3 separate regions of the Homo sapiens genome follow, and regions 1 and 2 are each reported to be linked to region 3. Evidence: microRNA targets listed by miRTarBase, many of them from high-throughput screens and not tested one by one. Region 3 holds a microRNA gene; each other region holds the end of a gene's coding sequence.

Region 1 (3,261 bases), not on the chromosome of region 3:
AAAGAAGCTAACACATTTTCATAGGCTGCTAAATGTGTCATGATCCTTAGTTGCTGTGCCTGCTGGGCTGCCAGCCCTTTGGGGGACAAAGTTGGTGTCCCAAGAGAGGGAAGTGGGAGAGGGAGAGAGTGCCTGGCTCAAGTGACTCTCCTTTTCTGCCTGACAGTGCTGGTGGCCTCAGTTTACCCCCGGAAGCCTCAAGCTGTAGAGCGGCATGTCCTTCCCATCCTCTGGCACTTCCTGAACACCGCCACCAGGAATGGCACCCTGCCTGGACCCAGCGGGAACATCCGCGGGGTGGTGTGCCGGCTGTCCAGGAGCCTCCAGGAGCACATGGGCTCCCGCCTGCTGGACTTTGCCGCCAGCCAGCCAAAGCACGTCCTCAAGACGCTCCAGGAACTCTTAGACTCAGAGTCCTTGGGAGGCAGCCGCAAGGCCACTGACAGAGGGGTGGCCCCTGACAGCAAGACAACTGGCAGCTCATACCCTTTTCAGCTGGATTAAAGATGGATCTGAAATGGGCAATTATTATTTATCTTATTTTTTTGATGGACTATTCTCCTGGTTACTTTCCCCCTTAGAGTTCCAGATGTACATGGTATATTTTGAAGTAGAAATAAAAGAATTACTTATTTTTCTAAGGTTTTATTATCTTGTACTTTTTTAATCACAGAGAATTTTCCAGTAACTAGGTTTGTGATGAACGAAATGAAATGTGACAGCAGCAAAACCAGTTGCAGACAATGTTGAGACAAAGAGTTAGGAAGAAAAAGGGTAGCACAGCCCTGCAAGCTGCAGCCCGCTCGAGACGATAGTTGCCCATCTGTGAGCTGCTGGGCAAGCCCTCCTGAAACCCGCAGCCTGAGTTGGTCATCGAATCCAGTCCATTTGTTATGGGCCTGATTGGAGGTGAGTGTAACAAACGTGTTCAGGGACATCGTGCTTCTGCCCTGCAAAAGCTGCAGCACGTGTCTGTTGGTCCTGTGGGAACCTTCTGATCGGCCCAGCTTATCAAAAGACAAGGGGAATTTGAGATTTGCATCACTAAAAGCCTTCTCTAGAAGTTGGAGTTCTGGCTAGTTCTGAAGAGGACTAGACAATGCTTTGCCATTGAAACACCCTAAATGGAGATGCATGTGGAGCGTAAAGTGCTACCAGTGTGCAGATGCTGCCGAGTCTCTGAAACTGCACAGGCTGCAATTGTGGGCCACATCACAAGGCTGGAGGGGCGAGTGGGCACAGCACGGGCCAGGACTTGTGGAAGCAGGGAAGGTGTTGGCCCCTGGGGGAACAGCCAGTGAAATGAAGTCCCGGCAGTGGAGAGGGAAGTCTGGGGCTCAGGCTCTGGACACTTTAGGTAGGAGTGGCTCTGCCTTGGCTGGGGCCAGTGGCAGGTTAACAACTGTGTGACCAGAAAGAGTTAGAGCTAAGGCCATGACCTCAAATGCACAGGCAAGGCAGGCCTGGTAAGGCAAAGGCTGAAGAGGCAGCATCCCAGCTCTTGCAGGGGAGCCCAGCCTGCAGCCACGTGCTGGGGCAGATCCAGACGACCGAGGCCCTGAGGGCCCAGCCTCATGCCAGCAAGTTTTCTGGCAGACACCCCCCTCCCCTGCCCTTCCCCAGTGGAACCTCTTTCCACTGTCATCTGCCCCCCAGGCCTAACATCCATTCCACATCCCTGTTCTGAGCCTCTCCTGGGGAGTCTGGCTCTGGAAAGCCCCGAATCTACTCACTTATGTATTTCCATACCCCACCAGGCTGAGGAAGCCACTTTCCCATCTTGCCTCTGTGGCAGGTGTAGTTAGTCCGGCCCCTCCTTACGCCCTGGGGTGAGGTTGGGCCTGCGAGTCATCCCGGGCCTTGGGCTTGTCATAGGCGGCTTAAGAGTGACTTTGGGTAATTCTAGCCCAGTGAGCTGCTTCTCACCTGATTGTGACCCCAGCAGGGGCTTCCCTGCGACCATCTAGCTCTTTGTTGATTCTGATTGAACCAGGTTAAAGGCCTGCTAGACAGGCAGCCATCCAAAAATGCCCAAGAGGCTGACAGTAAATGTTTTAAGTGTTGAACAATTTAATGAATTGCATTTGCCTGTCATCTGAGCAAATGTTTTTGGTTTGGTGAGGAGACTTGCATTTTCTGCTTTTATCCTAGAATGTATCAGAACATTTCAGGGTTTTTTAGATCCCTAGGAGGCCAGGGACGTAGAGTCTGGCAAGGATTTTGACGGCAGAAATGAAGCTTAGCAGTACTGTCCTGTCTTCCTGCCTTCCATGTGTGTTCTCACACAGGAAGCTTCCCATCCCATGGGCCTCCACCCACTCTCAGGGGCGGAGGCATTGAAAACAGCTGAAAACAGTGGAAAAGTGCAGAATACATCTTTGCACTGTTCTCTTTTCCCTCATTATTTCAGGTTTTATTAACCACACCTGTGGTGTGACGCTGCTGGGAGGCACTGGGTGGCTCTGGTGTACCTTGAGAAATTTCCATCTCCAAAGACTTCCTTACCTCATTACTTTTAAAATGAAGGGAAGACAGCATGTTGGTAACCTGGCCCTGGGCCTGTTGGGAATACCTGTGGGAATCTAATGGGACGGCCTGTCATGGGACATGAAGATTTTCCTAAGAGCTGGGGCTGGAGCTAAGCCCACACATACTTTGCTTGGTTCTGTGTGTGGCCAGGAACTCCACTTACATGAGATGCTCTTGGGGGTGGGAATACAGCCTCTAATGATGGAAGATTCTCTTTCTCTCAATCTCTCTCTCCATGTAACAAAAATGCAGGTGCAGTCACTCACTGCTTGCAGACTCCAGTGAACAAAAGGGAGGCCTGGTATAAAGAAACTGACTTTTTATTCCAAAGCTAGTTTAGGGGAAGAAGCTGCCTTGAAGGGTACTGTGTCGTTTTTGGAGCAGAAAGTGGGCACTTTTAAAGGGGCGGGGGGGGGGGTGCTGGCACGAATGGCATGCAGGAGAGGAAGCGGGCAGGTGGGGGAGTCCACATACTTGCTTTGATGACTTATGTAACGGGTGGTCAAGTTGGCATCTTCGTGGGCAGAACTAGGTTGTAAAGTGGCTGAAGCTCTCCGGGTGGGAGGGAGTTTCATAGTGGGCATATTTTGGGTTATTAATTGACTGTTGTGTCTCCAGGCAGTTTCCTGGTGGGTGCAAGTTCTGCTCTAGAGCTTCTAAGCACACAGTTAGATGAGCCTGCCCTGGAGGGAGTGTCTGGTAAAGGGGAGGTAAAAGGTTATAGTTGCATTT
Region 2 (3,261 bases), not on the chromosome of region 3:
GAGGCAGAGGCAAGCAGGTCGCTTGAGCCCAGGAATTCCAGACCAGCCTGGGTAACATAGTGAGATTCCATTTCTACAAAAAAAAAAAAAAATACAAAAAATAAGCCAGGTGTGGTGGCGTGCACTTGTGATCCCAGCTACTTGGCAGGCTGAGGTGGGAGGATCCCTTGAGCCCTGGAGGTCAAGGCTGCAATGAGCCATGATTATACTCCAGCCTGGGTAACAGAGTGAGACCCTATCTCCAAAAAAAAAAAAAGACTGAAAACTTGTTTGATTTACAAATAGAAATTACTCGAGTATGTGATATGAAATGAATTAACTCAGTTTTCCAACAAGTTGTAGGAGTTCTTTTTCCATTTTGAAGATAAGTTCGTATTAGAGATTCTGTTTCTCTTTTCAGAAGCATTAGACATTTGCTTATATTAGCCACTTCCCAAAATAGTGTCATATTTTCTCGACTTCTTAATTATTCCAAAAAGCAAAACTTAGTGTACCACTAAGCCAAGTACTTGGGTTTTCAGATTCCTTCCAAACTCACATTTTAAAGTTTTTATTTTTATTTTTAGGGAATTCAAGTTTGGACCAATGCTAAGGAATGCTTTAGCAAGATGTAATCCTGTGAATTGAATTTCTCTTCAATCAAAGTGCCCCAAAACAGAAGCACAAGTAAATAAAAGAAATTTAAGTCACTACCTAGTATACATAAACATATACAATAAGTTAAATAAATTCAGCTTTCTTTAACTTAATTGTGGTCGTGTTAATGTAGCACAAAAAATATATTTTAATGAAGATTAAATATTATAATTTGAGGTTTTGGGGACTGGTGCTGATTCCAAAAAGTTAATTTAATAATATATACCAACAGATTGTTTGTCACGCTTCTGAACCAATGACTGAATGTCAAGATGTTCGTTAATTTCTAGATGTTTGTTTCAAGACCAGCTGTTTCAGATCTATTAATGTAGGGAATTTTTCCCTAAGATTGAATTCCTATATTTACTTGGTAAGATCCACTAATCTGTTATAGGGAGTTGTTTTCTCTTGCCTTATAGTTGAGCTATTTGGTTTGACAAAGCTCAGCAGAAACTTGATGTGAAAAATCTACGATTTTCTTCTACATTCATTGATGCCCCTTGTAATGTTTGCATACACTAGAAAATGCCTTCAATTTGTGTTTTACCAGAATTTTGATACTGGTCAGAAATTTTATACTGCCAACAAAGAAGACTCAACTTCTCAGATCTATAATGGGATACATTGTCATCCTCTAGCAACTCCTATATAGAAAGTTTTAACTGAATATGTTACATATAAGAATTAAATTCTTCTCAAATAATTCTTAACCTCAGTAATGAGCCTAAATTTACTCTGCTTGGCTCTCTACACATGGCATTTCAGGGTATAAGATGTAGCATTTCAATGTGTAAGATATATGTACTAAACATATGTGTTGCTATCTTCATCATTAACATCCTTCTTTTCTATTGCTTGGCTGTAATTTTTGTAAAGATAAATTATATTGTTTTTTTGTATGTGTGTTTGTAGTATATGTTCAGAAGGCAAGCATCTTCATTTTGCTAGCTTTGCAGAATCTTAAAATGTGTACTCGTTATTTCTAATGATGTAAAAAAAAATCCCTAGTCCTGTTTAGCATTTGACTTTTTTATATGTTTTAAATGTTGCTGGATTTTTGTGCTGTTTGCCAAACTTATACAATAAATAAATGAAATATTGTGCTGATTTTCAGATGATTTTTGTTAATTTAACAAAGTGATCCATACATATTAATATCTGATGCTCTGTAAGAAAATGATATCTGTCATACTATGTTTTAAAGTGATTAATGCCACATGTTCTCACTTATCAGTGAGAGCTAAACATTGAGTACACATGAACGCAAAGATGGGAACAATAGACACCAGGGCCTCCTTGAAGGGGCAGATTCGGAGGAAGGCGAGGGTCGAAAAACTAGCTATTGGTTACTATGCTCACTCCCTGGGTGATAAAATCATTTGTACACGAATCCCCAGCAACACACAATTTACCCATGTAGCAAACCTACACAGGTATCCCCTGAACCTAAAACAAAAGTTGAGGAAAGAAAAAAAAATAAAGTTATTAATGGTATAAATTTGTCATCTACCAAAATATTGGTTTTTAAAAATATAAGATGCTGAAATAAGACATGATTTTTAAAATTTTACTTTTTTTTTTTTTTTTTTTTACTGTCAGATGGGTAATGGTTGAAGTTGTAACAAGGTTTGAGGGAGGCACATCTCACACGTGGGTGTGAATACCCAATCATCATGCTTATGAACCACAAAAGGATCATGAGTTTTTTTTTTGTTTTTGTTTGTTTTACTTTAAAAAAAAAAAAAGAGACAGGGTCTGATGTTGCCCAGGCTGGTCTGAACTTCTGAGCTCAAGGAATCCTCCCGCTTCAGCCTCTCAAAGTGCTGGGATTACAGGCGTGAGCCACCCTGACCCGGCCTGTTTTGTTTTGAGACAGGGTCTCTGTCGCCCAGGCTGGAGTATGGTGGCACAATTATGGCTCACTGCAGCCTCAACCTCTGGGGGCTCAAGTGATCCTCCCACCTTAGCCTCCCAAGTAGTTGGGACTACATAGGTACACCACCATGCCTGGCTAATTTTTTTATTTTATTCTTGTAAAGATGAAGTCTCACTGTGTTGCCCAGGCTGGTCTCAAACTCCTGGGCTCAAGCGATCCTACCCCGTTGGCTCCCAAAGTGCTGAGATATAGGCAGGAGCCCCTGTACCCGGCCATGTCAGGGTTTTATAAAAGATAAAATTGGTAGAAGCAAAAGTCATCTGTGTGGATACACATTTTATTCCACTGAATTGTATCATCTCTTGACAGATAAAATACCTTTCCCCTTGGCATTTAAAGATCAAAAGCCTTTTCCCCCAAACTAGCTTTGGACTCGATGTAAAATGTTAGACTTTTTTCTACTAGCTGACTTAATTTGAGAAGGCCATTATTAACTATGTTTCAAAAATGATTTAAGTTCCATGGCTCATGCCTGTAATCCCAGCACTTTGAAAGGCTGAGGTGGTTCGACTGCTTGAGCCCAGTTCAAGACCAGCCTGGGCAACATGGCGAAAACCCATCTCTACAAAAAATACAAAAATTAGTCGAGTGTGGTGGTGCACACCTATGTAATCCCTACCCAGCTACTCAGAAGGCTTAGGTAGGAGCATCACTTGAACCTGGGAGCTTGAGGGTACAGTGAGTCATAA
Region 3 (3,261 bases):
GTACAATTATTTCTGACTATAGTCACCCTGTTGTGCTATCAAATAGTAGGTATTATTCTTTCTAACTATTTTTTTACCCATTAACCATCCCCAACACTTGCCCAGCCACCCACTATGCCTCCCAGCCTCTGGCAACCATCCTTCTACTCCCTATGCCCATGAATTCAATTGTTTTGATATTTAATTCCCACACATAAGTGAGAAAATATGATGTTTGTCTTTCTGTGCCTGGCTTATTTCACTTAACACAATGATCTCCGGTTCCATCCATGTTGAAAATAACAGGATCTCATTCTTCTTATGACTGAATAGTACTCGTTGTGTTTATGTACCACATTTTCTTTATCCATTCATCTGTTGAGAGACACTTAGGTTGCTTCCAAATCTTAGCTATTGTAAATACTGCTGCAACAAACATAGGAGTGCAGCTACCTCTTCAATATACTGATTTCCTTTCTTTTGTGTATATACCCAGCAGTGGGATTGCTGGATCATATGGTAGCTCTATTTTTAGTTTCTTGAGGAACCTCCAGACTTTTCTCTGTAGTAGTTATGCAAATTTACATTCCCACTAATAGTGTACAAGGGTTCCCTTTTCTCCACATCCTTGACAAAATTTATTGCCTGTCTTCTGGATATAAGCCATTTTAACTGTGGTGAAATATTTCTCATTGTAGTTTTAATTTGCATTTCTCTGATCAATGATGTTCAGCACCTTTTCATATGCCTGTTTGCCACTTGTATGTGTTTTGAAAAATGTCTATTCAAGGCTTTGCTTATTGATCAGATTATTGGATTTTTTTCTTGTAGAGTTTCTTGAGATCTTTATATATTCCGGTTATTAATCCCTTGTCAGGGGTAGTTTGCAAATATTTTCTTCCATTCTGTGAGTTGACTCACTTTGTTGATTGTATTCTTTGCTGTGCAGAAGCTTTTTAACTTGATGTGATCCCATTTGTCTATTTCTGTTTTGGTTGCCTATGCTTCTGGGACATTGTTCAAGAATTTTTTGCCCATACCAATGTCTTGGAGATTTTTGCCAATGTTTACTGGTAGTTTATACTTTGAAGTTTTAGATTTAAGTCTTTAATCAACTTTGATTTTATTTTTGTACATGGCAAAAGATAGGGGTCTAGTTTTATTCTTCTGCATATGGATATCCAGTTTTCCCAGCACTGTTTATTGAAGAGACTGTCTTTTACCCAGTGTATGTTATTGGCACATTTGTGGTAACTCTCTAGATAAAGAAAAGCTGAGCACATTCATCACCATCAGATCAGTTGTACAAGAAATGATAAAGGGAATTCCATAAGCTGAAAGAAAATTAGCAACATGAAAAAATATGAAAGTATAACAATGACTGGTAAAACTAAGAAGTCAAATTCAAAATACTATAATAATGTAATGGTATATAAACTGCTTTTATTCTTAATATGAATGTTAAAAGACAAAGCTACTAAAAATAATAGCTGGCTATAATAATTTTTAAGGGATACACAATAGAAGAACATATAAATTGTGATGTCAAACATAAGATGTGACGGTAAAAAGTTTTAATGCAATCAAAGTCAAGTTATCAATTTAAATTAGCCTGTTTTAAATATACAATATTTTATGTAAACATCATGCTAACCACAAAACAAAAGCCTATAGTAAATACGCAAAAATAAAAGGTAAGGAATCGAAGCATATCACTAGAGAAAATTACCTAATCCAAAAGGAAGCCATCAAGAAAAAGTAACGAAGGATCTATACAACATTTAGAAAACAATTAAAAAATGACAGTAGTAAATCTATAATTACCTTGAGTGTAAATGGATTAAATTCTCCAATAAAAAGTAGATAAATAGATACAAAAAAGTCCCAACTCTATACTACTTATAAAATTCTCGCCTCACCTTTAATCACACACATAGACTGAAAGTGAAGGAATGAAAAAAGATTTCATGCAAATGGAAACCAAAAGAGCAGAAATATCTATACTAGATAAGGTAGACTACATCAAAAATTGTAAAAGACAAAGAAGGTCACTATATAATAATGAGGTCAACTTATCAAGAGGACATAACAATTCTAAATACAAATGTACTCAACATCACAGCTCCTAAATATATAAAACAAATATTAATATATATGAATGGAGAAAATACAAGGAAACTTCACTATCCAGCTTCCAAAAATGGTTATTCTTCAGAAAGAAAATCTACAGGAAAACATCAGACTGAAACTACACTTTAAGGGGACCAAAGAGATATATAGATATCAGCTACCTATATACCTGTTCGGTCTCTTTAAAGTGTAGTTTAACTGATTTTTTAATGGATATATACATATCAATGGAGACATATATAACTTATGGATATAGAACATTTCATCCAACATTAGCAGAATACATGTTCTTAAGGGCACATGAAACATTCTTTGGGATAGATTGCAGGGTAGGCCACAAAACAGGCCTTAACAAATTTAAAAATATTAAAATTATACTACATATCTTTTTTGACCTCAATGGTATGATACTATAAATAATTTTAAAAATTTCATAAAATTTCCAAATAAATGGAAATTTAAAAGTCGTGACCTTTAACAATGAACGATTCAAAGAGAAAAATAAAAGGGAAATTAAAAAATATCTTGAGACAGTGAACACACAACATGCCAAAACTTATGGGATTCAGCAAAAGGAGTTCTTTTAAGGTAGAAGTTTATATCAATAAATACCTATGTCAGAAAAAGAACATTATTAACAACTTAACATTATTTCTCAAGTTACTAGAAAAATGAGCACACTAAGACCAAAGTCAGTAAAAGAAAGAAAATAATAAAAATCTGAGCAAAAATAAAAAAATAGACTTGAAAACATTAGAAAAGATTGCTGAAACCAAGAGTTGCTATTTTGAAAAAATAAAATCAACAAACCTTTAGCTAGACTAAGAAAAATGAGAAAACTTATGGGCAAGGACTTCATGTCTAAAACACCAAAAGCAATGGCAACAAAAGCCAAAGTTGACAAATGGGATCTATTAAAACTAAAGAGCTTCTGCATAGCAAAAGAAATTGCCGACAGAGCGAACAGGTAACCTACAGAATGGGAGAAAATTTTTGCAATCTACTCATCTGACAAAGGGCTAATATCCAGAATCTATAAAGAACTCAAATTTACAAGAAAAAACAAACAACCCCATCAAAAAGTGGGCAAAGGATATGAACAGACACTTCTCAAAAGAAGACATTTATGCAGCCAACAGACACATGAAAAAA

What was found. Region 3 holds the annotated microRNA hsa-miR-3144-3p (AUAUACCUGUUCGGUCUCUUUA, at 2,273-2,294, shown strand). A microRNA usually pairs through its seed, bases 2 to 8, with sites in the 3' UTR of a target mRNA and lowers its output. Matches are read on the target gene's strand: a 7mer-m8 pairs with bases 2 to 8, a 7mer-A1 pairs with bases 2 to 7 and ends in A, and an 8mer does both.
Region 1: the mRNA of TOGARAM2 is a reported target of hsa-miR-3144-3p. The part of its 3' UTR that is shown has no 7-base or 8-base seed match.
Region 2: the mRNA of SNX4 is a reported target of hsa-miR-3144-3p. Seed matches in the 3' UTR shown: 7mer-A1 at 1,402-1,408.

Annotation. Positions count from the first base shown.
Region 1 is chr2:29,051,590-29,054,850 of GRCh38, forward strand. It overlaps TOGARAM2 (TOG array regulator of axonemal microtubules 2), which reads left to right. Exons shown (of 20, transcript NM_199280.4): 20 at 167-641. The coding sequence ends at 504. Among named protein-coding and RNA genes, the nearest start is that of PCARE, 21 kb to the right of the region's middle. RefSeq lists an enhancer at 1,366-1,876.
Region 2 is chr3:125,445,132-125,448,392 of GRCh38, reverse strand. It overlaps SNX4 (sorting nexin 4), which reads left to right. Exons shown (of 14, transcript NM_003794.4): 14 at 567-1,743. The coding sequence ends at 614. LOC124906351 (small nucleolar RNA U13) reads right to left here and starts at 2,332; the gene lies at 2,230-2,332.
Region 3 is chr6:120,012,954-120,016,214 of GRCh38, forward strand. MIR3144 (microRNA 3144) reads left to right here and starts at 2,226; the gene lies at 2,226-2,304.